7 linked regions of the Homo sapiens genome follow. The protein of the gene in region 6 interacts with the protein of the main gene of each other region in a biochemical or structural test. Each region holds a gene or a part of one and is shown on either strand. Other genes may lie near its edges. The genes, in order: PBK, DGKK, RPS14, DGKZ, SLCO1C1, PSMD9 and DOCK4.

Region 1 (4,222 bases), on a different chromosome or scaffold from region 6:
GTTAACTTATAATTATTTATTTTATAAGTATAAAAGGTTAGCAGAAGTATCTATTTCTAAATAAACTTTTAGACTTCTGGTCAGTATGGCAGACTGAGATAACATGGGATGTTCCCTTCTCTTGTTTCAAATACTTTGAAATGCTGGGCACAGTGGCTCATACCTGTAATCCCAGCACTTTGGGAGACTGAGGCAGGCGGATCACTTGAAGCCAGGAGTTCGAGACAGACCAGCCTGGTCAACATGGTGAAACCTCGTCTTTACTAAAAATACAAAAATTAGCCAGGTGTGGTGGTGCCCGCCTGTAGTCCCAGCTACTTGGGAGGCTGAGGCAGGAAAATCACTTGAACCCAGGAGGCGGAGGTTGCAGTGAGCCGAGATCGTGCCACTGCATGCCAGCCTGGGCAACAGAGTGAGACTCCGTTTTAAAAAAAAAAAAAAAAATTTTGAAACGCTGGACAAATGTAAACCTAGAGTTTAGGAAGGGAGTTCAAGTTGTTATATTTGGAGGTTATCACATTTTTTTATTAGTTTGTGTTTCTGCACATATGTGTTAAATTTTTTACTATTTTAGTATCTGCACCAAGAAAAGAAACTGCTTCATGGAGACATAAAGTCTTCAAATGTTGTAATTAAAGGCGATTTTGAAACAATTAAAATCTGTGATGTAGGAGTCTCTCTACCACTGGATGAAAATATGACTGGTAAGTTGTACTCTTAAGTTTTAAAATTTTGTTTTTAATACAGTGTTTACATTTTTAAATACGTAAGTCCACATGGATCAAAAATCAAAAACTATTTTTAAAAAGTATATGGTAAAAAGTCCCCTTTTTTTCTCTCTCTCCCAGTCAGCCTGCAGTCTTCTCCCTTGCCACATGTACAGTATAAATTACTGTATTATTATTAGTAGTAGTATTAGTATATATTTTAACTGGAGTTATCTTTGGGAAATATTTCTAACTGGATTGGGATCTTTAAGCAGTAAAGCATCTGGGAATAGAAAGTAAAATTTAGTAAGGTTGTGTAAAGCGGTTTATTTAGCATGAGTAAAGTGACAAGATTTAGGAAACTGGTAGAAGAAACTGGAATGAAGCAGAAAAGAGGGGTGCTAATGAAGGCTGGTCTTTGGCTCTTTGCCCTTTCTTCTCTATTGCATAGCTTCTCAGGGAATTTAAGATATGTTCTTGGTGAGAAACAAGAGCCAGCCTCAAGAGAAAGCCTCTGCTTGCAACATATTATTTAGTAAATAATACTTAAATTTGTCTCTTTATATCAACAGAAGTTAAACAAATGGTTAATAAATGCTGTTTAGAACATATAAATGCCTGAATTTCTAGCTGAAGTAAAAGTTTACAAGTTGAGTTGAAGGCAAGAGTCAGAATGAATGGACAGACTTTATAAATAAATGATGTCTGTAATCATTAATAAAAATAGAACTGTTGTGAAACCTTATGCTAAATAACTTACAAAATGGGAACTTTAGAAAGTAAAAGGATAAATTGTCAAACATAATAAAAATGAGGGTTTTTAAAGTATTTTTCTCAATGCTTAATAGAGCAAACAGACAAATGTAAGGATGTTAAAGATCTGAGTAAATAGTAAGGCAAGTACCTCTGCACCATAATATTTATTAAAATTGACCATATTCTTAGATCACACAAAAAAACTTCGAATTATAAAAAGTATGAATAGTCTAATAGGTGATATTCCTTAACATCAATGCTGTAAATCTAGAAATTTGTAATAAAATAGGAAACAAAAACTCCAAACTTTTTAGGAATTTAAAACACTTCCGAATAATTTTTGGCTAAAAAGAGAAATCAAATTCCATTTATAAAATATTTAGAAAATATAAGAATATAACAAGTCAAACCCTATTTGATATGTTCAAAACTACTCAAAGGAAACATTTTCATTATTTAACTTTTATGAAGTTAAGTTGAATATTCAACTGAAATTGAAAAAAATGACGCCCTAAGAACAGAAAGCAGAAATGAATGAATTTGATAGCCTATAAATTCTACATAATCTTAATGTGATCTATTCTAGAACATGTCAGAATTAATCTGAAGTTCCTCTTTGAGGATACATGTTCAATCAAACATGGCTGGGAAAACTCGATGAAAGGAGGAGGAATCTTCCTGAGCAGATAAAAAGTTTTATAAAGCTACAGTAATTAAAGCGATGATACTCATGCCAAAATAGGCAGAAAAATAGAACATGAGAGTCAGGAAATAGTTCCCAAATAGAGGAATTTGTTGTGTGATAAAGGTGACATTTTTGTATTAGTGAGAAAAGAGGTAGTTTAGTCAGTAAATGATGTTATCTGGACATTTTAGAAAAAAACACAGCTGTTTTCTATCCTTACACTTGAATCCCCATATATTGAAGATTGGGGGAAAAAGTAACAGTAGAAAAAATTGTAGATAAATAGTTCTTTAATGTTGGCTGTGGAGAGGACTTTAAAGAAGACACCAAAGCTAGAAACCATCATTAAAAAGCCATGGGTACCTCCATTTAAAAAAAAAGAATTCTATATCACAGTGGGTTGGAGAGGGGCAGGGAGCTTAAGACATTAGAAACTGAGATAAATGTATAAGATATTTAATATTTCTAATGCATTAAGAGTTATTAGTAATCAATGAGAAACAGATAAAAGCTCTATTATGAAGAGACTGTTGAGAAATGAAAAAAATGGCAATTAGGAAAATATATATGTAATGTTCTTACTAATGTTTTAAAAGCTAAATAACAATGAGATAATCTGCTATCAACACTCATCACACTGTGTAAATTATCTGTTAAACGTTTCTCCATTCCTCCATTAGGCTTGTAAGCTCTAAGAAGGGAACCTTGTATATCTTGTCCACTGAAATATCCTCAACTCTAGAATAGTGCCTGACTTGTAAATATATTATTGAAGGAGTAACAAGATTGCTAGTAAATAAAAAGATTGCTAGTATGAGCAACAATGTAGGTTAACATGTCCTCTCATACACTAAGTAGAACTTGTAACTGCTGTTTTACTGAGGTTAGAATAGGTTTTGCTGTGGTAACACAGACCTCAAAAACTTCAGTGACTTACAACAACCAAGGCTTATTACTCAAGCTGCATGGCCATTAGCACCTTGTTCTGTGTCATTCTCCCTTTAGGACTTATACTGATGGAACAGCCACTATATGGAACATGGCCACCATTATGGGGAGGGTGAAAAAGCATTGGAGTGGTACTGTCCAATACAGTAGTTATGAGCTGCATGTTGCTATTTACATTAATATTAAAACATTGAAATTATTTTCTCAGCCACCCTAGCCACAATTCAAGTGCTCAGAAGCTACATGTGGTTAATGGTTACCACATTGGACAATGCAGATTTAGGAGATTTAATCATCATAGAAAGTTTCATTGAACAATACTGCTCTAGAAAGTCTTGCAGTGATAGTTAAATGCTCAAGCTCAGAAATGACACAAGTCATTTCTTGTGGTAGAACCTTTCAGGTGACAGTTTGGAAAGCTGTATTTAAAATAAGAAAAACCTTTAAAAATGTTTATGCCCTTTGACCCTATAGTTTCATTCTTAAGAACACAGTCCAAAGAAGTAATTGAGTAATTAGGCAGTACAGGCATTTTTTTTATAATAACCTGATATATTATTTCCTGCAAAACTTCATTGCGCAAAAGTTTCAAGATATAACTAGGTTTATAGAAAAAAAAAACAGGGTTAAAACCTATGCAACTTTGAAAACTAAAGCAGTAACAAAAACAGTTAATAATCCTAATAAAAGATACTAACACATTAAATCTGCAAGGGCATAAACATTTTAAAATATTTTTCTTATTTTAAATGCAGATTTCCAAACTGTCGTCTGAAAGGTTCTACCAGAAGAAATGACTTGTGTCATTTCTGAGCCGGAGCAAGACTTTCTAGAGCAGTGCTGTTCAGTGAAACTTTCTATGATGATAAAATGTTCCTTTGTAGCCATAAACCCTGGGTTTATGCTGAAGGTTACATATGAGAGTATTTTCAATAGATACTTTTCATCAAGATGAAAAATTTGATCTGGCTTTCTCACTAAAAATATATATATATTTTTAAGCGTGTGGGAAATGTGTTGGCAGCTCCTTTACCTGGACTCACTCACAGCTTTTGTAGTTAGCAATAGCAATTCTTAAAGCTACTACACCAGGCATATGCTCAGGGAAGGCATTTCTGTAGGCAAA
Region 2 (3,181 bases), on a different chromosome or scaffold from region 6:
ACCATAGTGATGTAAAATAGATCAGTGGTTAGAAATAGGGTTAAGGTGTGATTATAAAGAAATAAAGGAGATTTCTGGGGCACTGGAAACTGTTCTGTATCCTGATAGTGGTGGTGGTTACATGAATGTCTACATGTGTTAAAATTCATGGAGCTCTACACCAAAAGTAAAGGGCAATTGTATGATCATTTGAAAAATAGACTTAAAATTCAATTCTGATGGTGCTTCACTAGCCTACAGGGTGCAGTACAGACTTCTTAATATGGATTACAGGGCCCACCCCGGTGGTAGCGCCTCAACAACAGGGCTGTTTCCCCTCATAAAGCCTAAGAATGTAGTTTTGGGGGTAGACTGAAATGTGGTCCCGAAGGTCACAAATGTTTTGTCTCTAAATAAGACACTTTTCAGTTTGGAAAATCAAGGATTTAGAAGACTCAAGTTCTCACTCTGGTGTAGCATGTTGTGGAATCCTGGCCTAGTATAGCCTCAGTTCCCTACCTATTAAACACGACTAAGAACTGGCTCCCCTGGGGTCACTATTAGTGTGACAGAAATTAAACTGTATTGAATGCTCAGCCGAACTGATTTTGCATTTGAACAGAATATGGCTTCCCACCTCAAACCCCTCTGGAGAGGAGAGGAGTGTATGATGTATGCATTGGGGGGAATAGATTGTATTGTCAGATTTCAAGGTGCCTTATGCATTTATTTAACAGTCTGGACTACACTCTATCCCACTTTGCCTCCCCAGTAACTAATGCATTCCACTGAGATTTGTATCCTGCAGAGAATTAGCTCCTGGAGCAATTACAGTGGCATGTATTTCCCCACAGGATCATCCAGAGTCGCAGCTAGGTTTTAGAGTTCTTCTTGGCAACCCCTTTAGTATCATGATCATCCCTGATGGAGATTCTTGGTTTGCGCTGTTGCTGTCCTCCCTCACCTGCCATCGTGACCTGCATGTGGCTTGTTTAGAGCTTGGATGGCCACCCAAGCCCACCTGCCCCCCATTTCCACCACCATTCAACTCCCTTTATGCTGAGGTAAATGATGAGGCACGGCATTGATTATGTTTATCCATTTATTAAAATATTTAAAGAAGCAATACTTTATTAACATTGAGGACTGGTGTTCCATTTGGCGGGGGGAGAGGAATAGGCACACTTTGTGGATCTTTTTTTTCTGCTTTTTCCTGTTACCATGTAAATACCCCAGCTTCCTCCCCCAACCAGCCCCTGGCCCTGCTGCTTATTTGCAGGGGCCTCTGAGGAAATAAAAAACACAGAGCAGAAAACAACAATGGGTTACAGATTCACTGACAAATAGACAAATGCAATTCCACAAATCATATAGCCAAGCAAGGTCTCATATAGGATGGAATGGTGCTAATGGGTTTGGTTGCTTTGGTATTATTTTCCACCTCTCGTGAAAGAAAAATTCTTCCATTTGTGTCCTGAGGGAAGATGACGTTGACCCTGACTGTTTCTTCTGGCCCAGTTTTATTAAGGTAAAAAATCTCTTTCTTATTCTTAACCTGCTCTTATGGACACAGCACAGGGCCTTTCTGGAGAAGGGGACCCATAACTGTTTACCTCCTATAGTATTGACACCAGAAGCAGTTGGTGGCAGTTCAAATGTATCGGCTTTTTCTTCTCCACTATTCTTCTGGCCAGGAATTGCCTACCCAACCAATTCGTCAGAAAGTGCTACCAAAGATACAACCAAACCCTAGAGCTTTGGGTCTTAATGATGTCTGAACATAATTGAGATGGATATTTGGTGTTTGGTCCCACCACCCAAGCAATTGTATTAATTACTGCAAGTGGTTAACAAAGTCCTTAAAGGAGCTCACACTCCCAGAGCTAAGACAACTCCCTTGAGGCATCACTTCTTGCTTTGTTTCCAAGTGAGCATATGCAAGAACAGGTGCTTGGCAAGCTATCTTCCTTTTTGGGAAACTACTGGTAACTTAGCAATTTAGGAGGTAACTGAGGGATTGAGCAAGCCACACCTGCTCCTGGGCCTTGTCATCTATCAACTGTGCTCCATGAGCTGACTCTAGCCCCAAATACTAGTGGTTTCAGTCAATATCATTCTGACTCAGAGTGGGAGGACAGGGTAGGTGAAAGGGAATCCACATGGCACAACAGAGCAACAGCAGCATCACTGTGCACAAAGACCTAATTATTGCAGCAAAGTAAGCACAAGAGATGGAGTCTTATTACAGTTTACTATCATCAGTGATAAAAATAATTATAAGACACAGCCCTGCTTAGTCACTGCCAAGATAAAGCTATCTTCTCCCAGGACTTCCTTCTGTAGTCCTAAATTTGCTCATTTGGACATTTTCCCCTTCGGAAAAAGCTCTTCTGAAGAAAATGCAACTTGGTTCCCACTCTGTGAGTGTGTGTGCAGGTGTCAATGCATGCAGCCATAGAGGAGCCAAGTCAGGCTGCAATAGTGAGCTTGCTGATTTCATCTAATACCTCCTCCTGGGAAGAAAGACTAATAACAGAGAAAGTCAAAGACACAACAACAGCACACTCACTACTCAAATATGTACAACAAGCTAACACATTCTGATGCTTAAATAAGTTTTAAATGTTTTCTGTCATCTTTTTCCATTGACTTTCTTCTCTAGTTGTAGAGCTAGGACTTAGTTTGGCACAGCAATCAGACATTTGGGGACTATCCCCTTGTTAATATTTTTCTCCTCACCCCTGCGGAGGTGGAGCACAGGTGGCTGGTTTAAGTGGGTTAGGCTGGTGGAGTTCCAGAGTTGAGAACCAGTGCTTGGAATCTGAATTGTGCACCTCAATGAACCAGCCATTGGACTGAATCAGGTAATTGAGCACGCTAAGTTTGTCTGAGAAGTAGGGAGAGGCCAGTTTTCTCTTGATAAGTGGGAAGGGACAGTTAACTAAAGGTATGAGTCAAGGGTGGGGTGAAGATGCAAGGCTGACCAGAGAGAACCTCTCTGGGCATTGGGGTTTGATTAGATTTGCCCTGACTGGGAGAAGGCATTTTTGAAAAATGTGAATTAGTATTTGGAGCGATTTAGGAATAGTTTGTTTTCATGAGAAATTTGCAAGAAGAACCACAGGAAAGCACAGGCTTCTAGCCTTCATTTCTCCAGGCCCATGTTTTTTCTGATCACTTCAATGCCCCTCTGTACTCAAGG
Region 3 (3,025 bases), on a different chromosome or scaffold from region 6:
TGGCACAATCTCAGCTCACTGTAAATTTCGCCTCGTGGGCGGATCTGTCCAAAGGATCCTCCCACCTGCATCTACTGAGTAGCTGGGACAACAGTGTGTGCCACACCGGGCTTTTTTTTTTTGTAGCGGGGAGTTTCACCATGTTGCCCAGGTTGGTCCCAAACTCCTGGCCTCAGGCGTTCCACCAGCCTCAGTCTCCCAAAGCCCAAAGTGCTAGGATTACAGGCATGAGCCACCGCGCCCAGCCTTAAAAGATTTTTTCAGACTTTTTTTCAGTGTCTTTTTACTTAATGAAAACGAGACAGTTGCAGTTACCCTGTCTAAAAGGGTTTTTTCCTCTAGAGAAGACGGTGGGCTAGATGTCAGAACCTGGATTTGTCCTGTGCCTCTGACATCTTGCGCACAGCTCAGCCTGTTTCCCTTTCTGGAAAGTGAGTTAAGACCACGTCAGGAAATTCGAGGAACTGGCAGATGGGGCCACTTCATGTTCACATCCATCTGTTAGGTACTGGGGAGTCATTTGGGGAGCAGCAGGATCTGTTGCTGATTGGTTAGGCCATTGGTCTAGGGAGTCCTGGGGGCCCTTCCCATCCAGCTCCAGGCAATGACGCTTTCTCTTCCTCCCCACAGAGGATGTCACCCCCATCCCCTCTGACAGCACTCGCAGGAAGGGGGGTCGCCGTGGTCGCCGTCTGTGAACAAGATTCCTCAAAATATTTTCTGTTAATAAATTGCCTTCATGTAAACTGTTTCAACTCCAGCCTTCTCTCCTTCATCAGGGGCTACTCAGGCATTTGATTTCTTCCTCCTATTTGGCTTCTTGGGAGAAAGGAGCCTGAGGAGAGCTGAGATCCTGGTGCTGCATTTGGGGTCTTTTCCATGCTACTTGCGGCATTAAGTTGCCTTGGTCATCTAAAGCAGACCAAGGCGTTGGAGACCTCGTTTTGAGTGGAGATGCTGGTTCTAAATATGGACCAATTCTTAAAGAGCCAGAGTGGGAACTGTTGATCCAAGTGTAGCCTGAAGCGAAAGAGGAGCCTTCCAGACCCATGCCATATATAAACACACGTGGGTGTGCATTCTCCCCCCACACCTTCTGTGCAAAGCTGGGAGCTCACTCCACTGCGTCTTGCTTTTTTTCACTTGGCAGATCTTGGAGATTGTTCCACATCAGTACATAAAGTACATAAAGATTGTCACCCCACAAATACACACCAAGTCCTATTTTCATCAGCGATAAAAAAGAAAAGTTCTTGCTTTCCGGAAGCTTGCATGCGGCTCTGAGTACCCAGTGACACCAGATGGTACTCAGCGTTTTGCAAGGGATTACCACAAGGCCCCGTGATGGTGCCTGCCATGGTTAGGACAGGCTGGTGGCTGGGTAGGGTTAGTGAGACCCAGTGGAGAGGATGCTGTGTGTCACAGGCTGGAGAGGTGAGACCATTGAGGTAGTCAGTTGTAGAGGAAAGAAACCAGCAAGAGGGGAAAATCTGTTGGGATGCTGCTTTTAGCCTTTGATGGCGTGTTCCAGGCAGAGGGAATAAGCAAATAAATGGGTCCTGAGACAAGGGGTTACTGTGATGAGGCGGCGTTGGTTACATGCCAAACCTTGCTAGGGATTTTAATAACAACATTGAATCTTAACCTGATGAAATAACAGTACTCCTGGGGAGGCGGGAGGGATAGCATTAGGAGATATACCTAATGCTAAATGACGAGTTAATGGGTGCAGCACACCAACATGGCACATGTATACATATGTAACAAACCTGCACGTTGTGCACATGTACCCTAAAACTTAAAGTATAATAAAAAAAAAAAGCTTGCAAAAAAAATATAACAGTACTCCTTAAATTGTTAAAAGTCATGAAAGTCAAGGACAGGAGATTAAGGAGGCGTGAAAACTAAATGCCCATTGTGGTATCCTGGATTGGATTCTGGAACCAGAATAGGGTATTAGTATAAAAACTAGTGAAATAGGATAAAGGCAGGGCACAGTGGTTCACGCCTATAATCCCAACACTTTGGGAAGCCGAGACAGGAGGACGGATTGAGCCCAGGAGTTTGAGACCAGCCTGGGCAACACAGGGAGACCCCGTCTCTACAAAAAATAAAAAATTAGCTGGGCATGGTGGCACACGTCTGTACTGCCAGCTACTTGGGAGGCTGAGGTGGGAGAATTGCCTGAGCCTGGGAAGTGGAGGCCGCAGTGAGCTGTGATTGCATCACTACATTCAGCCTGGGTCACAGAGCAAGATCCTATCTCAAAAACTAAATAAGTAAATAATAAATTAAAAAATATGAATAAAGTCTGGAGTTAAAGTCTGGAATAAAGCTAGTAGTAATGTACCAGTGGTTTCCTACTTTTGGCAAATGTATCATGGCGATGTAAGATGGTAACAGGTGAAACCGGGTGAGTGGCACACAGAAACTGTATCTTTGCAACTTTTTGGTAAACTTAAAATTATTCCAAAGTCAAATTATTAGGGAAAAAAAATGAGGGGTGCTTTTATACTGTCAGTCTGGCAGTCTAAGGCAGGATGTGGTGCACAGACCCTCAGGAGGCAGACACACCTGGAGGAAAATCCTATTCCACAGCTTCAGACCGTTCAACCTTAGGCAAAGTACTTAACCTCTCAGCCGTTTAGTGGAAACTCCTGTGATGATGGCTGCCTCAAATGGAATCACACAAGATCAAAGTGTTTAGCGCAGTGCCTGGCACTGAAGAAGCTGCTGCTATTCTTACACTGGTGCAGGTCTTGTGCCAAGCAGCATAAAGGACAGCTGGCTGGAATCGTGGTAGAAAAATGCTGCCAGTCGCCGGAGCATTCTTTTTATTTCCTGTGGTGAGACTGTAACTTGTCCTGCTCTTTCCTGGTAACCAGGGATGCAATCAGCCGGGTCTTTGAAAGCAGTTCCTTTCGGGGGTTTTGCCTGAAAGGAGAGCCAAGTTGTGGTGTGGCTCAGGTGGGAACGTAGCAGCCTATTGACCGCAGAGGCGGCTGGGCTGCTGCCCACCTGAGAC
Region 4 (4,222 bases), on a different chromosome or scaffold from region 6:
AGCTCCCACGTAGAGGCCTCTCCCCTGCCAGGGATGAGCCCATCTCAGCACATGCCAAAATAGCTGTCTGGGAGCCTGGGCCCGCACCGCCCACACCCCAGCATCTCGCGGGTTAACAGCTTGCCTGTCTCTCCGCCCCCTTCCCCAGCTTGCTGACATTTTACAGAGAGAGGCGGGGGCGGTTGTGAAAGGGGGCAAGCTGGTTCTTGCTCCCCAACCCACACGGACACCCCACTGACACAGCCTGCCACCACCCACCCACCTCTGGAAGGCATCCCCTTGGGGGAGACCTTCCTTCCATCCTGAGGGCCCTGAAAGGGTGAGGGACAGGCTGCCAAAACCATCCCTGGTAGACCCAGGGAGCTCTAGGGGGCTGGTCTCCCTCAAGGGGTCTTTTGTAGGACACAGGATCTCCCTCTGTCACCCAGGCTGGAGTGCAGTGGCACAATCATAGCTCACTGTAATTTCAAACCCCTAGGCTCAAGCAATCCTTCCACCTCAGCCTCCCGAGTAGCTAGGACTATAGGTGGGGGCCCCCATACCGGGCTCATTTTTTCTTTCTTTCTTTCTTTTGTAGAGACGAGGTCCTGCTATGTTGCCCAGGTTGGTCTCGAACTCCTGGCCTTAAGTGATCCTCCCACCTTGGCCTCCTGAGTTGCTGAGATTACAGGCCTGAGCCACTGTGCCCAGCCTCTGGAGTCTTTTTAAGAAATGATTTTGAAATCTTTCTAAACACATTAAATATCTTGGCGTTAGAAAAGTGTGCAGAATAAGGTGACACCTACTGCCTAGCTTGGTTGGAGCTTAGCATTAGGCCATATTTGCTTTAGATAGAGATGGAGGCCCCTGTGTCTTACTCCCTGGAGGAAACCACAATTCTGATTTTGGTGTGTGTGATGTTCTTGTGCCTGTTTTTAAAATTGTCCTACATAGGTATTCATGCCTAGCAACATACAGTGCTGTTTCGTATGATTTTACTCTGGTTTAAATGGTATACCAGGCATATTCTGCATTTAGGTTTTTCCCTCAATATTGTTTTGGAGATTTAACCATCCTAAACATGAATTCTCACGGATCCATTTTAACCTCCACGTCCGATTCCATTGTGTAACAGCAGCTTATTTGCCCAGGCTCTGTTGACGGACACTTGGGTGGTGTGCAGTTTTTCGCTATTGCAAGCGATCCCTCTGTGTTCTCTCCACCAGTGCTTGCTCACAGGGTCTGTGTATTTTCAGCTTAGACAGATGTTGCCAAATTGTGCTCCGAAGTAGTTGTCCTAATTTTTAGGCCTCTGTGTTTATTTTTTTATTTTATTTTATTTTTTTGAGACAGAGTCTCACTCTCGCCCAGGCTAGAGTGCAGTGGTGCGATCTCGGCTCACTGCCAGCTCTGCCTCCCGGGTTCAGGCCATTCTCCTGCCTCAGCCTCCCAAGTAGCTGGGACTACAGGCGCCCGCCACCACGCCCGGCTAATTTTTTGTATTTTTAGTAGAGACGGGGTTTCGCCATGTTAGCCAGGATGGTCTCGATCTCCCGACCTCGTGATCCGCCCGCCTCAGCCTCCCAAAGTGCTGGGATTACAGGCATGAGCCACCGCGCCCGGCTATTTTCTTTCTTAAAACTTTCAGTAAACTGGGGAATTGTTTCCCAGGAACAAACACTTTCTCCTTCAAGCCTGCAACACTCCCTTGAGAGAGACGAGGGTGGGCATTAGCCCTATTTATCAGATCAGGAAACTGAGGCTGAGGCAGGTTAAAAGGCTTAGCTTGAGGTCATGTAGCTGGTCAGAGGCAGATCCTCTGGGCCTTTGAAGCTAAACCTACTGTGAAGGCCTTTGTCCCCTGTGTGAGTAGTGTGGAAGCCTGGAGAGTGGGGTGGGGCCCTGGGGGCTGATGGGGGAGGGAGCAACATGGTCAGAAAGTTGAGGGGGGAGGTGTTAAATTTTTTTTTTTTCTTTTTTTGAGATGGAGTTTTGCTCTTGTTGCCCAGGTTGGAGCGCAATGGCGCGGTCTCGGCTCACCGCAACCCCTGCCTCTGAGGTTCAAGCGATTCACCTGCCTCAGCCTCCCAAGTAGCTGGGATTACAGGCATGGGCCACCACACCCGGCTAATTTTGTATTTTTAGTAGAGATGGAGTTTCTCCATGTTGGTCAAGCTGGTCTCGAGCTCCTGACCTCAGGTGATCTGCCCGCCTCAGCCTCCCAAAGTGCTGGGATTACAGGCATGAGCCACCCGCCCGGCCAGGGTGTTAATATTGAATGAGGGGTGAGGGGGAAATGCTTCTCCCAGCAGATGGGGAATGGGAGCCCTCTGCAGACACAGGAGAAGACAAGGATGGGACGGTCACCAGAGAAGAGTGGGGGCCCGCGAGGGGTTTATAACAAAGGGGCCCCTTTGGGAGGCTAAGGGAGATATATTGGCATTCCCATCAGGGATCGGTTTCAGTGTTGCCTCTGAGACACCAGAGCTCAGCCCAGACCAGACTTGTCCACCCAGTGCAGCAGGAAGTTCTCGGGAGCTGGCCCACTCCTGGGGCTCTGTGCCCACCTGAAGCCTGTGCTGTCAGCGGGATCCATGAGGCTGAGTCCAGACCATGCGCTGTTCCCTCCACTCACTCTTCAAACCACACCCAGCACTTCTACACTCTGGGGATGCCATTAGAAGCAATGTGAGGCCCTGGGGCTCACAGCCTGTCCGGGGATGCAGATTTGCACATTAGTGCTGATTGCCCAGGGTCTGAGAGGAAAACCATGAGGGAGAATTCACTGAGTAGAGAGGGGAGTGGTATTCCAGGTAGGGAGACCACCGGATGCCACGTGGTGCCACGTGGAAAAGGGACCCGCGGTGTTTTGTTTGCCAGAAGCATCCAGGGTGGAGCCTGAGGGGTCGAGGGTATGTGCCATGGAACACACTACTGAGTTCAAACCCCAGCACTGCCACATGTTAGCTGGACGACTTCAGGCAAATGACTTAACCGCTTTGTCTCTCAGTTTCCTCATCTGCAATATGAGGATACGGGCCATGGGGATAAGAATACCAACTATTCTTAGGAGGATTCGTAGCTTAATATTTGTAAAAACACTTAGAGTAGTGTCTGGTGGAGTGAGTTATGTAAGTGTCAAATACAGCATTAAAAATATGAAAGAGCAGAGAGGAGGCTGGGAGGCCTGTTGCCTGCCAGCCCCAGGTCTTTGCATTTTGCTCAGCTGACAGTAGAGTCAGTAAAAGGTGATTGGGTGCTTTAGGATGAATTCTGATGGCAGCGGGAGTCTGGCTTGGAGGGAGGCACTAAAGGAATGGGTTGGTCATTTGTTGCGCAAACATCTCTTTGAGGCCTAGCAGGGGCTGAGTCAGGGACTCGGATGTGAAAGAAGAGACTGGGGGTATTTCACCAAGGAGCTCAGGCCAGCTTAGGATCCCCGCCTAGCCCCCAAGCCTCTGAGACAGCCCCTCCTCCCCTTTCCTTGCCCACCACCCTCCCCTTGTGACTTCATGTCACCAAACCGACTATCTAGTTTTCATGAGAAAGCCATGGAGAACATGGAGCGGGCGATAGCATCCAGCCCAGAAAGGGGCCTCCAGGTGTCACTCTTGGGGTCCTCTAGAGAGGAGAGGAAGGTGGCCACCCAAACCAAGGCTGTTGCCATCCCCTTGTACCCAACAAAGAGAAGTGGCCTGAGCCAGCTGGAGCCTGTGGTCAGCCGTTGCATGTGGTTACACAAGGTGGAAGAAGCCTTTCTCCTCCCTTAAGGTGCTGGCCCCTCCCCTGTGGAATTCCCTGTTCTTTCCTCCTGCACTGATCAGCAGTAAATGCTGGACTCACTGCCAGGCACCATGCCGGGCATGCCCAGATGCGCTAGACCTGGCCCCGGCCCCCCAGGAGCTCGCGGTCTGGTGGAGGAGCAGGCATGTGGGCTGAAAGAAGCAGGCCTCCCAGGGCTCTAGTGGCAGGGGAGCCAAATGGGCAGTGCGGAGCTGTGAGTAGGAGGGGTGTTCCGTTGGCTGTGAGCAGGCAGCTGCTTATCAGGTAGAGAGGGAGGCCAGTATTCGGGGCAGAAGGTGTGCCAGGTGCGGCGGCACAGCAGTAAGTCAGGCACAGCCAGATTGGGGCACAGAGAATAGGCTGGCTTGGTTAGAACTAAGGCTTCGTGTCACAGTACAGGAGGCTTAGTGCCACACCGCAGGAGCCACGTCTGCCAGGGTGGAGAAGGCAGATTCACTCT
Region 5 (5,010 bases), about 100 Mb from region 6:
TAAGTGGATTCCTCTAGGGAGTGGGAATTGACTAAAGGAAAGGATGAGACAAGGGTCTGGTTTCAAAAAAATTATTATTAGGCTTTTGGATTCATTTTATAAGCATTCATAACTTTAATTTTTTAATTGAAAAAGAAGAGTGAGTGAAAGAGAAAAATTTAAAAACAAAAAATAAGCAAAACAAAGAGCTAATAATGTTAATCAAGACAAAAAACAAAGATATAAATACATAATATTAATGAGATAAAACACAGATATTTAGGAGTATAAAACATAAAAAGATGCATCGAATGTTGAAGTAAGTTTAATATCTTGACTTAATGGATAAGTTTCTAGCAAATATTCATTACCTATATTGATAAAAACCAGAAGAGAAAATAGCCAAGAAAGACATTATCAAAAATACTCTGAAACTATTCCCTAAACAAAGATACTAAGGATAGATGATGCACCAGAAGTGCTTTATCAAGGGATATTCTTTGAGGAAAGATAGCCGATAATGGAAACAGATAATCATTGTCTCCATTAGTTTGACAAAAATAACATTATCTTGGTAACAAAACAGCACAAAGATAGCACAGAAAGGAAAACTTCAGATCAAGCCCATAGATTATAAAAATTCTAAGTAAATGCTAGCAAATCCAAATTAACTCTTGCTCTATGATTAGAATTATTCTAAAAGATGCAACAATTGGTTAATTACAGGAAATTTATTCACCTAAATTACCACATGAATAATTCAAAATAAAAAATAGAATTTCATTACATGAAAAACATCAGTTGATAAAATTCGACATCTATTACTGATTTAAAAAACAAAGTTTAAGAAATGAAGAATATAGAGATTCTTCCTTAACAGTATCTGATACCAACAGCCAACTTCCTATATCTACTGAGTCACTAGGACTACTTTTCTAGAACAGTATTTTGCCAGGACAAGGAAAACAGGGTTTGGGAAATGCAGAGTTATACAATGTTAAATAGGTATCTTTACTACAAAACTATGAGTAAAAATATTGCCAAGCAAGAGATATACAAACCAGAAAGGTTTTAAAATAAGAAACGGATAATTATTAAATTTCTGGCTTAAATTGCAATATTCTTCAAAGGATTAAATTATATAATTCAAATTGGCCTTCTGTTTTTGGGGATTCAGATATCATATTATTTCTCATCAGTCATAATATTAAAGTCAGTGACCAGAAAATACAAATAAATTGTTTAATAATAAAATCTGCTATCATTTATCCTAAATTTATCTTTAAAAGATCCAAAGTGTTACATCTAGAATGCTAATGTCAAAGAGAAAAAATAATTATGTTAAAAACACTACTGAAAAACTTGAGATACTATAGCACATTTTAAGTTATCTAATATATGGAGGTGTTGACACAAAAATCACTGTAACTAAAATTCAAAAGTATAATGAAATATAAATATAGTCATCTCAGTTCACTTTGTGTTAGGGCAAAATAGGATCCAGCTTAAACTATTGGCACTGCATAGCTTTACTGAAGTGTCTTGATGGTTAATGCGCAAATTATTGCAAGTGTAGTATGTTCCAAGGAGGCTACAGTTCATCCCCTGTAAAAAGAGAGGGAAGGAAGCTCAATGACATGAACGGAAAGATCCTTGGGGCCTGCAGGCTCTCTCTCTTCATTTGCAACTGCAGAAGTAGAGCAAGAGTACACAGTTATTCAGAATTATTTGCATTTGGCAAATCCTTAATTGATCTCTGGCCACTTGAATAGATTCTTCCAGGAAAAGACATACGACAGTTTTCATCCAATACCCTGGGTTTGGAGCATAACTTATTCTGGAGGCCAAAGAAAAACAAGCCAAGCAGTTTCTCTTCCTTTGGTTCAAAAACATTGAATAATCAGTCCTCATTAGTTTCAAAATCAGCCCTCCAGATTTTAAATGGAGAGAGCAAGTGGCTTAGGAAGGTTGTAGTTAGATCCCGCAGATGTACTCAACCCCTCTGCTCTGCAACTGACTCGGACTCTGTCCAGCAATCAGTCCCCAAGGACTGCCACAGAGAAAGTCCTAAAGGCAACCACGCTCCTCCCTCTCTTCTCTTGGCCATCTCCTGTGAGGAAAACCTCTGTCCTGGCTTGACTTCTGGACACCAGGATGCCTCCCTTCAGACAAACTAAAAAATAGCCTCACGGCACTTGCTGCAGAGGAGTGTGTGTTGTTTAGAAACTAATTTCTCACCTAATACAAATTATCTGTGTCAGATTCAGATTTAATAAGTACTATTTTTGTGTTGAGTAATGTACGTACTTTTTCTAATCCTTAAAACAACCCAACAAACGTAATATTAGAATTCCATTTTTTAAATTAGATGGCCCAAAGCAATTAAGTGACTTGTCAAAAGCTAAACAATTTATAAGCATGAGACTCAAAATTTGAACTCAAATTTGAGTTTATCTGATTTCTTTAACCAATCTTCTCTCTTATTTCCATCAAACTAATGAGGGGATCATCACCTTTCACTGATATTTTTATGGATAAAACATAAATCGCACAGAAATTAAGGGTTAATCTCCCATAAGAATCTGATGTATTAGTCACAAAATATAAAATGAGAGAACCAAGTCTTACCTGGAGGAAGAGATCAAAGATAGCCAGTTCCTTTCAATGTGCTCAGCAAGAGGATGGACCACACACCACAGACTGAAAGAGGAAACTGAGGTAAACTCCACAGCAATTTTGAACAATTTTGCCAGGTGGGGAGAGTGTGGGTGGACACAAGCAGAGGAGATTAGGGAAAAGAAAAGATGAAGGGCATGGTCTCACCCCTGAGCGATCTCTTCTCTTTCCTCTTTCTTCCTGGCCTCTTTTTTCTGGCAGTCAGCAGAGAATTGGCCACGCTGGCAAGGCCACTGACGTGCATCTCAGCTCCCAGGGCACAGAAAGAGCTGAAGCTTTTGAGCCATTTCTTTGCAATTTGCTGCAAGTTTAAGGCCACACGTGATAAAGCTTTCTTTATGGGAGAGAGTGAATAAAAGAAAAGACCACTTGTGATCTTACTTGCTGATTCCCAGAAAACACAACTCCGCAGGGGGCAGAGGGTAAGGAACAGAAGCCAGAGGAGGGCGGAAGTTTATAACAGAGACCCCTCCTCCTTCCAGAAAGTTTTTAAGCCAACTATTCCTTAGGGACATCACTGGGATCCTTGTGTTTTCTTTGTTTGTGTGTTTTGGTTTTGGTTTGTTTTGTTTTGTCTTTAACGGTTCTTGGGCTAATTTGCTACATGGTTTTCTTTTCCATTGGTGTTCTAGAATCTTTAAGGACCAAGTATCAGGTCACAATCAAAGCTCTGCAGCGCTCTGTACAAAAAGAGTTAATTCTCAGAGACATGATCAGTTGCTCATATTTACAATTTCTATGAGTTTTGAAAACAGAAAAGAAACACGTTGAATTTTTGGCATTCAATTGTTTATTCTGCCTAATTCCAAGGATAAATAAATCCTTGCACTGAGAAAGTCCACAATTCTAATACATTCTTTTTCCAAGAGAAAAACTTTAGAGGATCTTAAGCAGTAGTAGTTTGCATTTATTTTCTACCAATAAATAAATTTGCTACCAGAATTATCCAAGATTCACCCTACTCTTAAGTGGCTGAGACTCTGGGATGGTCACTTAATTTTACTGAGTCTCAACTTCTTCCTTTGTAAAGCAGAATTTTTTTGTTTAAAAAAAAAAAAAACAGATTTATAGGGCTGTTTTAAGGATTAAATTATATAATGTATTCAAAAGCACATTGCAAATGAGCGGAAGGTATCATCATTTTATATATATATATATTTAGTTCACATAATGGTCAGAATAGTTAATATTATTCAAGCACATTTTACTACAAAAGAAAGAAAAGAAAATGCAAGAAAAATGGGTTTATATTAAACCTTGCAATGAAGCAATGGTGTTTTCACACTCTGAAAGGCCAAATATTTTACTTTAACAATCAAACCAGACTTTTCCATCGGAAATAGTGAGCAAACATCCGAATACATTGAGTGTTAGTCTAGACTTCTCAGTGTCTAACAGGTGGCCAGACCACTGTTTTATTCAAGAGGAGACAGTATTTACCAGCCCAAAGGGCATAATTTTCCTCACCAAGAAATGAAATTCTCCCTTGAGAATGTAATTTTGTCTATTCCCAACTGGCTCAGTCTCACTCTCCAACACGATTCCTTTTCTTATTTCCAGAGTCCACAGTTAATGTTACTGTTTTGAATGCACATAATGTTTACACTTATTCAGAGCTTCTTATGTGCAACCTTGCATTGGATTGTAGCCTACTTCAGCCTTTCATTCCCATTTCCAAACTCTAGATGAGGGAGTTAACAAACTTCTATAAAGGGACAAATAAGAAATATTTTAGGTTTTGTAGGACCATGCAATCTCTATCACAACCACTCACCTCTGCCATTCTGGTGGTAAATTAACCACAGACAACATATAAATGAATGCATTTCCTAAGACTGCACTAACAAAGTACTACAAGCTGAGTGACCTAAAACAGAACTTTATTGTCTCACACTTTTGGAGGCCAGAAGTCAAAAATCAAGGTGTCAGCAGAGCCATGCTCCCTCTGAGACCTGTAGGGAAGAATCCTCCTTACCTCTTCCACCTCCTGGTGTTTGCTGACAGCCTGAACTCCTTGTTTTATAGGTGTATCACTCCAACAGCTGCTTCTGTTACCACATGGCCATCTTCTCCCTTTATGTCTCTGTCCTCTGTACTTAAAAAAACGCTAGTCATCTTTGGCTGGGGACCACCCTCATGACCTCATCTTAACTTGATAAGGTCTGCTAAGACTCTCTTTTCAGGAAAGGTGACATTCACAGGTACCGGGGGTTAGGACTTCCTCATATCTTTTTGGGAGACACAATTCAAGCCAGTACACTCATATTTTCATTTTCCTCCTTACTTGAATTTTTTCATGCAATTATTTTAATCACTTCCTTCTGTATACCCTCAATTCTCCTGTTTCTCTTTCAA
Region 6 (4,222 bases):
TGTAATCAAGATTTCACTTTTCTCTGAAATCCTCTAGAAGGAAAAATGCTGCATAAGCCGGGCACAGAGGCTCACGCCTGTAATCCCAGCACTGTGGGAGGCCGAGGCAGGCAGATCACGAGGTCAAGAGATCGCGACCACCTTGCCAACATGGTGAAACCCCGTCTCTACTAAAAAATACAAAAATTAGGCCGAGCGTGGTGGCTCAGGCCTGTAATCCCAGAACTTTGGGAAGTCAAGGTGGCCGGATCACGAGGTCAGGAGATGGAGACCATCCTGGCTAACACGGTGAAACCCCGTCTCTACTAAAAATACAAAAATTAGCCGGGCATGATGGCAGGCGCCTGTAGTCCCAGCTACTCGGGAGGCTGAGGCAGGAGATTGGCGTGAACCAGGGAGGCGGAGATTGCAGTGAGCCGAGATCGCGCCACTGCACTCTAGCCTGGGCAACAGAGCAAGACTCCGTCTCAAAAACAAAACAAAACAAAACAAAAACAAAAATTAGCTGGGCGTGGTGGCGGGTGCCTGTAATCCCAGCTACTTGGGAGGCTGAAGCAGGAGAATTACTTGAACCCAGGAGGTGGAGGTTGCAGTGAGCCGAGATCGCACCACTGCCCTCCAGCCTGGCGACAAAGCAAGAATTCGTCTCAAAAAAAAAAAAAAAAAGTGCTGCATAAGCCTAGTAATCCTGGAGACATTCAGTCCAGGAGAGGGAGTCCACAGGGAGGTGGCCAAAGGGCACCCCTGCTACAGGGCTCTTGCCAATTGGCTGGGTTTGGGAGGAAGACCCAATGCTACAAAATCTTTGATTTTTCCAGAAAAGCTGAAAATTGGGATCTTTGAAGTGAAATTCTCTGATTTTTCAGTACAGATAGCTAATTCAAAATGTTGTGAACCACCATGGCAATCTGCAGGCCACGCCAGCACAGCAGCTGGTATTTTGATACCTTGTGCCTGTCAGTGGGATTGCGGTACTACCTGACCTGCCTCCTCTGCCACTGTCACTTTGGAGCAAAGGCAAGACCCTCAGTCATGAAGGGATTCAAGTTCTCAACCCACAGGAGCAGATGTGGGAAAAGAACCCAGATCTGAACAAGTGGAGACATGCACTTGGGAGGCAGACTTACATAATACATGGTCACTTTCACTAGAAAAGCCCTCCCCCAGTGAGGTCCACAGCATCCCTAGACTCTGCAATGCCTGGCACAGGGAAGTGCTCAATACACAGCTGTTGGGGAATGGAACGAACGACTATTTACAACATATTACAATTCTAATCAAAATGTTGAAAGGGTTTTTTTCAGTACAAAATGTTTCTGCAGTGTATTTCAAAAAACAAATTTGCAATTATAACAAACGTACCATATTAACATAAGCTGTTAGCTGGGCGCGGTGGCTCATGCCTGTAATCCCAGCACTTTGCGAGGCCGAGGCGGGCAGATCACCTGAGGTCAGGAGTTCGAGACCAGCCTGGCCAACATGGTGAAATCCCGTCTCTACTAAAAAAATACTACTAAAAAATTAGGCCAGGCATGGTGGCTCACGCCTGTCGAGGCCGAGGCGGGCGGATCACCTGAGGTCAGGAGTTGGAGACCAGCCTGGCCAACATGGTGAAATCCCGTCTCTACTAAAAAAATACTACTAAAAAATTAGGCCAGGCATGGTGGCTCACGCCTGTCGAGGCCGAGGCGGGCGGATCACCTGAGGTCAGGAGTTCAAGACCAGCCTGGCCAACATGGTGAAACCCTGTCTCTACTAAAATATAAAAATTAGCCGGGCACGATGGCGGATGCCTGTAATCTCAGCTACTTGGGAGGCTGAGATGGGAGAATCACTTGAACCCGGGAGATGGTGAGTGCAGTGAGTGAGCCGAGATCATGCCACTGCACTCCAGCCTAGGTGGCTAAGCAAGATTCCATCTCAAAAAAAAAAAAAAAATTAGTCCGGTGTGATGGTGGGCACCTGTAATCCCAGCTACTTGGGAAGCTAAGGCTGGAGAATCACTTGAACCTGTGTGTATACACATGTGTATATATTTGGGAGGCCTCAGCCTCCCAAAGTGCTGGGATTACAGGCATGAGCCTCTGTGCCCAGCTTATGCAGCATTTTTCCTTCTAGAGGATTTCAGAGAAAAGTGAAATCTTGGTTACACCCAGCCTGAGTCATTCACTCATATGTGTATTTTGCATATATACACGCATGTGTATATTTTACATACACATGTATGTGTGTATATATTTACATGTATGTGTAGATATATACACATGTATGTGTATATATGCTGTTAACAACACGGGAGATTACATACAGAAGCCAAAGGACCTATGCATTATTTTCCAATTTTTTTTTCTTTTCTTTTTTTTTTTTTTTTTGAGACAGAGTTTCACTCTTGTTGCCCAGGCTGGAGTGCAATGGCACAATCTCGGCTCACGGCAACCTCCGCCTCCTGGGTTCAAGTGATTCTCCTGCCTCAACCTCCTGAGTAGCTGGGATTACAGGTTCGTGCCACCATGCCCAGCTAATTTTGTATTTTTAGTAGAGACAGGGTTTCTCCATGTTGGTCAGGCTGGTCTCGAACTCCCGACCTCAGGTGATCTGCCCACCTCGGCCTCCCAGTGTGCTGGGATTACAGGCGTGAGCCACCGCACCCAGCCATTATTTTCCAATTTTTATGTAAATCTATAACTGTTCTTTAAAAAGGGCTGTTTTGAGAATAGATTTTCTTTCTTTTTTTTGAGACAGAGTTTTGTTTGCTCTGTCGCCCAGGGTGGAGTGCAGTGGTGTAATCTCGGCTCTTTGCAACCTCTGCCTCCTGGGTTCAAGTGATTCTCCTGTCTCAGCCTCCCAAGTAGCTGGAATTACAGGCATGTGCCACCACATCCAGTTAATTTTTCTATTTTTAGTACAGACAGGATTTTGCCATGTTGGTCAGGCTAGACTCAAACTCCTGACCTCAGGTGATCTGCCCGCCTTGGCTTCCCAAAGTGCTGGGATTACAGGCATGAGCCACCGCACCCGGCCGAGAACAGATTTTTCAAAAAAAGACCAATAAGGAATTGCTCAAACAGATTTTTTTTTTTTTTTTGAGACGGTCTCTTGCTCTGTCACTCGGGAGGTGGAAGTTGCAGTGAGCCAAGATCGTGCCACTGCACTCCAACCTGGGTGACAGAGCGAGACTCCGTCTCAAAAAATAAATAAATAAATAAGATGTGATGCAGATGGAATCAAGATTCAAACAGATTAAAGAGGAGTTAGTAAGTGAAAAATGTGGAGGATAAATGCTAATAGGACTCTGTGGTGGAGACGGTTGCCTACCTATGGCTGAGTGGATAATGGCCCCCAACACATCCACATCCTAGCCCCTAGAAGCTGGGAATATGCCACCTTACATGGCAAAAGAGGCTCTGCAGATGTGATTAAGGACCTTAAGATTCGGACATGATCCTGGATTATCCAGGTGGGCCTGGTGTCATCACAGAGGTCTTTATAGGTGAAAGAGGGAGGCAGGAGAGTGAGAGAAAGAGATGTTATGACAGAATCAGAGGGAGGGAAATGCGACTGCTGGCTGTGTAGATGGACGAAGCCATGAGCCAAGGACGGTGGGCAGCCTTTGGAAACCAGAAAAGACCAGGAACAGGTTCTCCCCTAGATCCTCCAGAAGGAGCCAGCCCTGCCAACACCTTGATTTTAGTCCAGTGAGACCCATCTGGACTTCTTATCTCCAGCTACTAAGTCTGTGGTCATTTGTTATGGCAGAAACAGAAACAAATATACTATCCAATCTGTACTCTCTGCTAGCTCTTTAATTAAAAACAAATCACGTCATTTGTTATGGCAGAAACAGAAAACAAATATACTATCCAATCTGTACTCTCTGCTAGCTCTTTAATTAAAAACAATCAGCACCTTGGAAGGCCAAGGCAGGAGGACCACTTGAGTCCAGGAGTTCAAGACTCACCTGGGCCACTTAGTGAGACTCGTCTCTACTAAAAAAAATTAGCCAGGCACAGCGACACATGCCTATAGTCCCAGCTACTTGGGAGGCTGAGGCAGAAGGAGCACTTGGAGCCTGGGGGGTTGAGACTGCAGTGAGTCATGTTAGCACCACTGCACTCCAGCCTGGAAGACAGAGCAAGACCCTGACTCAAAAAAAAAAGAGAGAGAGAGAGAGAGAGAAAATGAAACCAGAAATATAGAACCTTAGAGTCTAGCCCATTCCCTT
Region 7 (4,222 bases), on a different chromosome or scaffold from region 6:
ACAAGAATAGACCTCTCAACAGTCAGAAAAAATACAGCACATTATCAGAGGGCTGGTGCATTCCCGGTGTTTTGCTTTCTGAACATCACATAGTACCAAATCATAACAATACTGTTAAGGATCTAATTTTGTCTCCTAATCTCCCTTTTTATGTCCCAGTTCTCAATGATTACAAGTTTCTCTAACCTCTAGGGCATGGTAAGAGGCTGCTTCTCCTTCTGACAGGTTTTTAACCAAGTCATTAGAATTAAAAGTATACAAGAAGAATCAAGAAAGTATAGGGAAAATATTCAGAATTACCTCATGGAACATATTCAAGGCCATGCTATTTGGGAAGTAGATGGATCCTGTTCTTAAAAAAAACATGTGGGGCTACTTCCGGTAATGGAGTTTGGCGGCAGCAGCAGCTCTGCACTGGTCTTAAAAGATCAGTCCCAGGATGATTAGGGTCAAGTTCAATAAAACAAAACAACATGCAGCTTAGCTGAGTCCAATATAATGATTCTCAAGTTGACAGATTAAAATGCAGTGAGAAGCTTGGGGAAAAGAACTGCAAGAGATTGGCCCTAGTGAAATTCCTTCCCCAGGGCTGGTGGTGACAGCATGTCCAGTCGTCAGTATGTGTTCTGGTAACCGGAAATGAAGCTGATGCAAACCAATAGCCTCTCCATGCAGAGAGAGAAGGGAAAGGCAACCCACTTCTGCTCAGCTGGTACACAGAAGGTAGGGGAATTTTAAAAGTCTACTCATAAAGTTGGTTAAGCTACAAATATAAACTGGAGCAATTGACTTCTGATGGAGAAAACATTTGATTACGCTGCTGTGTAAAAATAAATAAACTGCACTTATCGTTTTCTTCTATTCAGCATAGATGAAAAGAAATTACCTGTGACTGAGATAATGCTCCAGACCCTTTGCTCTCTTGCGAAAGAAAGAAACGGACTGACATGAGAAGCTCCTGAATGCAGCAGCGGAACTCCTCTTCGTTTTGCCCACCAGTGGCAAGGGAAAACAGCCTTCGAGATTGAACTATATACTTAAAAATGTATTCTTGTGCCTTAAAAATACAATTTTTAAAAGTTAGCTTCAAAGGAGACAAAGAGTATTTATTTAGCAATGACACGGCATAAAAACCATGGTATGGCATTAAACTTTTACATTATTCATGTAGACACCAAGGCCTTGTGAGGCTTTTTTGAACAGTATTTACTTTAAGGGGGAACAGCCACTTTTCTCTGATGCCTAATGAGAGAAAAAAAATTTAAAAACACTTTAAATTTAAAAGAAATTTAAAAGAAATAGAATTTTAATAGAAAATTTAAAAACACTTTAGCCGGGCACGGTGGCTCACGCCTGTAATCCCAGCACTTTGGGAGGCCGAGGCGGGTGGATCACCTGAAGTCAGGAGCTCGAGACCAGCCTGACCAACATGGAGAAACCACATCTCTACCAAAAATACAAAACTGGCCAGGCATGGTGGCCCATGCCTGTAATCCCAGCTACTTGGGAGGCTGAGGCAGGAGAATTGCTTGAACCTGGCAGGCGGAGGTTGCAGTGAGCAGAGAATGCACCATTGCCCTCCAGCCTGGCCAACAAGAGCAAAATTCCGTCTAAAAAAAAAATTAAAAAAAAAAAAATTTTATCATTCTGGAGTATGATGAACACTAAGTGTTTTTGACCCTCAGATGTTTTTTAAATTTAGTCAACAAAAAGATAACTGTTTTTTAAAAAATAATTTTGTTTTGACAGGTAGTACTCTTGCCACTTAGCATTTTACCTTCAATCAGCCCAAATTACAAATGAATAATTCACAAAATGCTATTTTATAAAATGTATACATTGTCTACTTAAAGCTACTGACACCAAATAGGATGGTCCTCAACAACAGGAATCAGAAGACTACCAGGGCTGTTACTGGACAATTCCTTTAAGAATTTGTACTCTTTTTCAACATGTTTGCAAGTAAGGGATTAGTATCTCCACAGACAACTGAGCATATGGTGCCCAGCGATGTGGGCAGCGTTAAGCCACAAGACCCGGTAAAGCCTCAGGTTTCCTCATTATAATCCCCGCTAAGCCACCCTATTTGCTCTTAAAATTTAACATAAATGGTTCTCCGATGGTCTCTGTCAGGTTGGTGGAAGCAAGAGCCAGGAACTTCTAAGCTTAACTGCCCCATATAGACTTCTCTCATAAACCCTCCCTCTCTCCTGCTCATCTTAGACTTCACTTCAAGTACTCTCCAGCCCAGAGGAACAAGGATTCAATCCTGAACAGTTTCCAGTAGACTACCCTGGCAAAGTCCCCTTCAAATTTCATCAGCTCTCAAGCAGTCACAAACTGATTAAGATCCTTGAATTGGAATGTCAGTAATACATCATCACCCATTACTGTCTGTGTAGAGGAACCAATTAGTTTAAGCATCAGCATGCAACAGCTTTGTTAGACTCTGCTGTTATCAACAGCATGTTATCACCTTCAGCACCTCCTGGATATGCTCTTGCCGCTCTGCTTCTGTGATCCGGTCCACGTACCATTTGAGCACTTTGATGAGATCTCTAAAATACAGGGGAAAATGTGCAGAATGTAAAATTGGTCTAATTCTCAATTAAATGCCAACAAATCCAACTCTTAACTATATCATGAGGAGGTTTCTTTTCCCATCAGTTCTCACATTTTCCTGTCAATCTGCTGTATAATAATTTTACTAAATCTGCAGATCAACACTGCCACCCTTTTCAAAGCTTAAGGGAGAAACAACACTCAATCTGGACATATTCCATAGCCCTGCTGTTTCTGGTAATGCCTCCAAATGGGTGAACACAAATATTGGAGAAAAGGACTGTGCCCAACCAAGTGCCTGGCAGTGTGAGTGCCATGGTCAATACTGTAAAACTGCTCATTGGGATTTCTTTCCCAGTGACCACGTAAACAGCTGGATGCAATATCATTAGGCTGCAGGCAAAACGGGGTGGGAAGGAGGGATGGAGACAATGCCTCCCCACTGCTATGCACACCTTATGGATTTATCAAGCCAATTTTCTGACCCATGAGAAGAACCTGGCTTATGTCAATATGTGCCTTAGGAGAATTTCTAGAAAGGCCAAGGTAATTTTTTTTCCTGTTTTGAAAAAATGTAAAAACAACAGCCCACAACTCTCAAGATGACAGTCTTACACCTTGAACTTTGGTCAGTTCTTGGTTTCTCTTTTTTCTTTTTCTTTTCTTTTTTTTTTTTTTTTTTGAGACAGAGTCTTGCTTTGTCACCCAGGCTGGTGTGCAGTGGCTTGGCTCACCGCAACCTCTGCCGCCCTCCTGGGTTCAAGCAGATTCTTCTGCCTCAGCCTCCCAAGCAGCTGGGATTCAAGTATGCACCACCACGCCCAGCTAATTTTTGTATTTTTAGTAGAGGCCCGGTTTCACCATGTTGGTCAGGCTGGTCTTGAACTCCTGACCTCAAATGATCTGTCCACCTTGGCCTCCCAAAGTGCTGGGATTACAGGCATGAGCCACTGTGCCCAGCCAGTTCTTGGTTTCTAGGAAACAGTTTACCCAGCAATGTTTCTCTGGGTCAGGGGAGAATACTTGGATGTGCCAGTAGGTAGATGTTGGTGGAGTGCTATTTTTTAAGATAACATGCTAGTGAGTTTCTGATCACCCCCAGCCTAAGAGGATTCCACAAGCCTTATTTGTCTTTTTAAGATCCTGCTTTCCTGGCCAACCGGAAGTGTGAGAAATTATACTCTTGTTTTCTAGCTTCCAAAGACAATTTAACTTGGAAGCAGTAACCTCCTCACACTAGGGCCCAAATTGTTAGGCTGAGTGGGCCGATGTTTCAAAACTATTCCTGCGGTTGCATTTCACTCTCAGCAAAAAATCACACTGATGAAGTGTCAAGTCTAACAAAAATACCTTCATTCATTTCGATGTTGGAGACGTCGATCTTAACCTGTCATGGCTGGGAATATCCAAGTAAACAGGATCAAATGCTTATCTGATAACCTATTAACCTTTATATATTACATAGATGGGGGAAGGATATCAACCTGATTTCATGCTTTTTAAACTCACCTCAGGGAACAGTCAGGCATGTGCATGCCCACAGGTGCTTAAGGTATAAGGTAGAAATATGGGAGAACAGCAAGGACCATATTGGACTGGGAGACAGACGATGGGGTACACTCCAAGGCTATTTAAGCAGTTATTTGTCGAACTAAAAGAG

The links.
Region 1: the proteins of PSMD9 (region 6) and PBK interact in a test that uses a peptide from one of them, tested with the Homo sapiens proteins (one large-scale study listed by IntAct).
Region 2: the proteins of PSMD9 (region 6) and DGKK interact in a test that uses a peptide from one of them, tested with the Homo sapiens proteins (one large-scale study listed by IntAct).
Region 3: the proteins of PSMD9 (region 6) and RPS14 form a complex in vitro, tested with the Homo sapiens proteins (one study listed by IntAct).
Region 4: the proteins of PSMD9 (region 6) and DGKZ interact in a test that uses a peptide from one of them, tested with the Homo sapiens proteins (one large-scale study listed by IntAct).
Region 5: the proteins of PSMD9 (region 6) and SLCO1C1 interact in a test that uses a peptide from one of them, tested with the Homo sapiens proteins (one large-scale study listed by IntAct).
Region 7: the proteins of PSMD9 (region 6) and DOCK4 interact in a test that uses a peptide from one of them, tested with the Homo sapiens proteins (one large-scale study listed by IntAct).

The regions. Positions count from the first base shown.
Region 1 is NC_000008.11:27,817,047-27,821,268, reverse strand, and holds part of PBK (lymphokine-activated killer T-cell-originated protein kinase), read left to right. Parts: intron 1-574; coding exon 575-704; intron 705-1,608; exon of another isoform or gene 1,609-4,222. UniProt on the Homo sapiens protein: Phosphorylates MAP kinase p38. Seems to be active only in mitosis. May also play a role in the activation of lymphoid cells.
Region 2 is NC_000023.11:50,364,342-50,367,522, forward strand, and holds the end of DGKK (diacylglycerol kinase kappa), read right to left. Parts: 3' UTR 1,068-3,181; downstream 1-1,067. UniProt on the Homo sapiens protein: Diacylglycerol kinase that converts diacylglycerol/DAG into phosphatidic acid/phosphatidate/PA and regulates the respective levels of these two bioactive lipids.
Region 3 is NC_000005.10:150,441,959-150,444,983, reverse strand, and holds the end of RPS14 (small ribosomal subunit protein uS11), read left to right. Parts: intron 1-630; coding exon 631-698; 3' UTR 699-2,349; downstream 2,350-3,025. UniProt on the Homo sapiens protein: Component of the small ribosomal subunit. The ribosome is a large ribonucleoprotein complex responsible for the synthesis of proteins in the cell. Part of the small subunit (SSU) processome, first precursor of the small eukaryotic ribosomal subunit.
Region 4 is NC_000011.10:46,353,804-46,358,025, forward strand, and holds part of DGKZ (diacylglycerol kinase zeta), read left to right. Parts: intron 1-4,222. UniProt on the Homo sapiens protein: Diacylglycerol kinase that converts diacylglycerol/DAG into phosphatidic acid/phosphatidate/PA and regulates the respective levels of these two bioactive lipids.
Region 5 is NC_000012.12:20,693,405-20,698,414, reverse strand, and holds the start of SLCO1C1 (solute carrier organic anion transporter family member 1C1), read right to left. Parts: upstream 3,084-5,010; 5' UTR 2,608-3,083; intron 1-2,607. UniProt on the Homo sapiens protein: Mediates the Na(+)-independent high affinity transport of organic anions such as the thyroid hormones L-thyroxine (T4), L-thyroxine sulfate (T4S), and 3,3',5'-triiodo-L-thyronine (reverse T3, rT3) at the plasma membrane.
Region 6 is NC_000012.12:121,894,987-121,899,208, reverse strand, and holds part of PSMD9 (26S proteasome non-ATPase regulatory subunit 9), read right to left. Parts: intron 1-4,222. UniProt on the Homo sapiens protein: Acts as a chaperone during the assembly of the 26S proteasome, specifically of the base subcomplex of the PA700/19S regulatory complex (RC).
Region 7 is NC_000007.14:111,867,098-111,871,319, forward strand, and holds part of DOCK4 (dedicator of cytokinesis protein 4), read right to left. Parts: intron 2,559-4,222; coding exon 2,477-2,558; intron 1,058-2,476; coding exon 887-1,057; intron 1-886. UniProt on the Homo sapiens protein: Functions as a guanine nucleotide exchange factor (GEF) that promotes the exchange of GDP to GTP, converting inactive GDP-bound small GTPases into their active GTP-bound form. Involved in regulation of adherens junction between cells.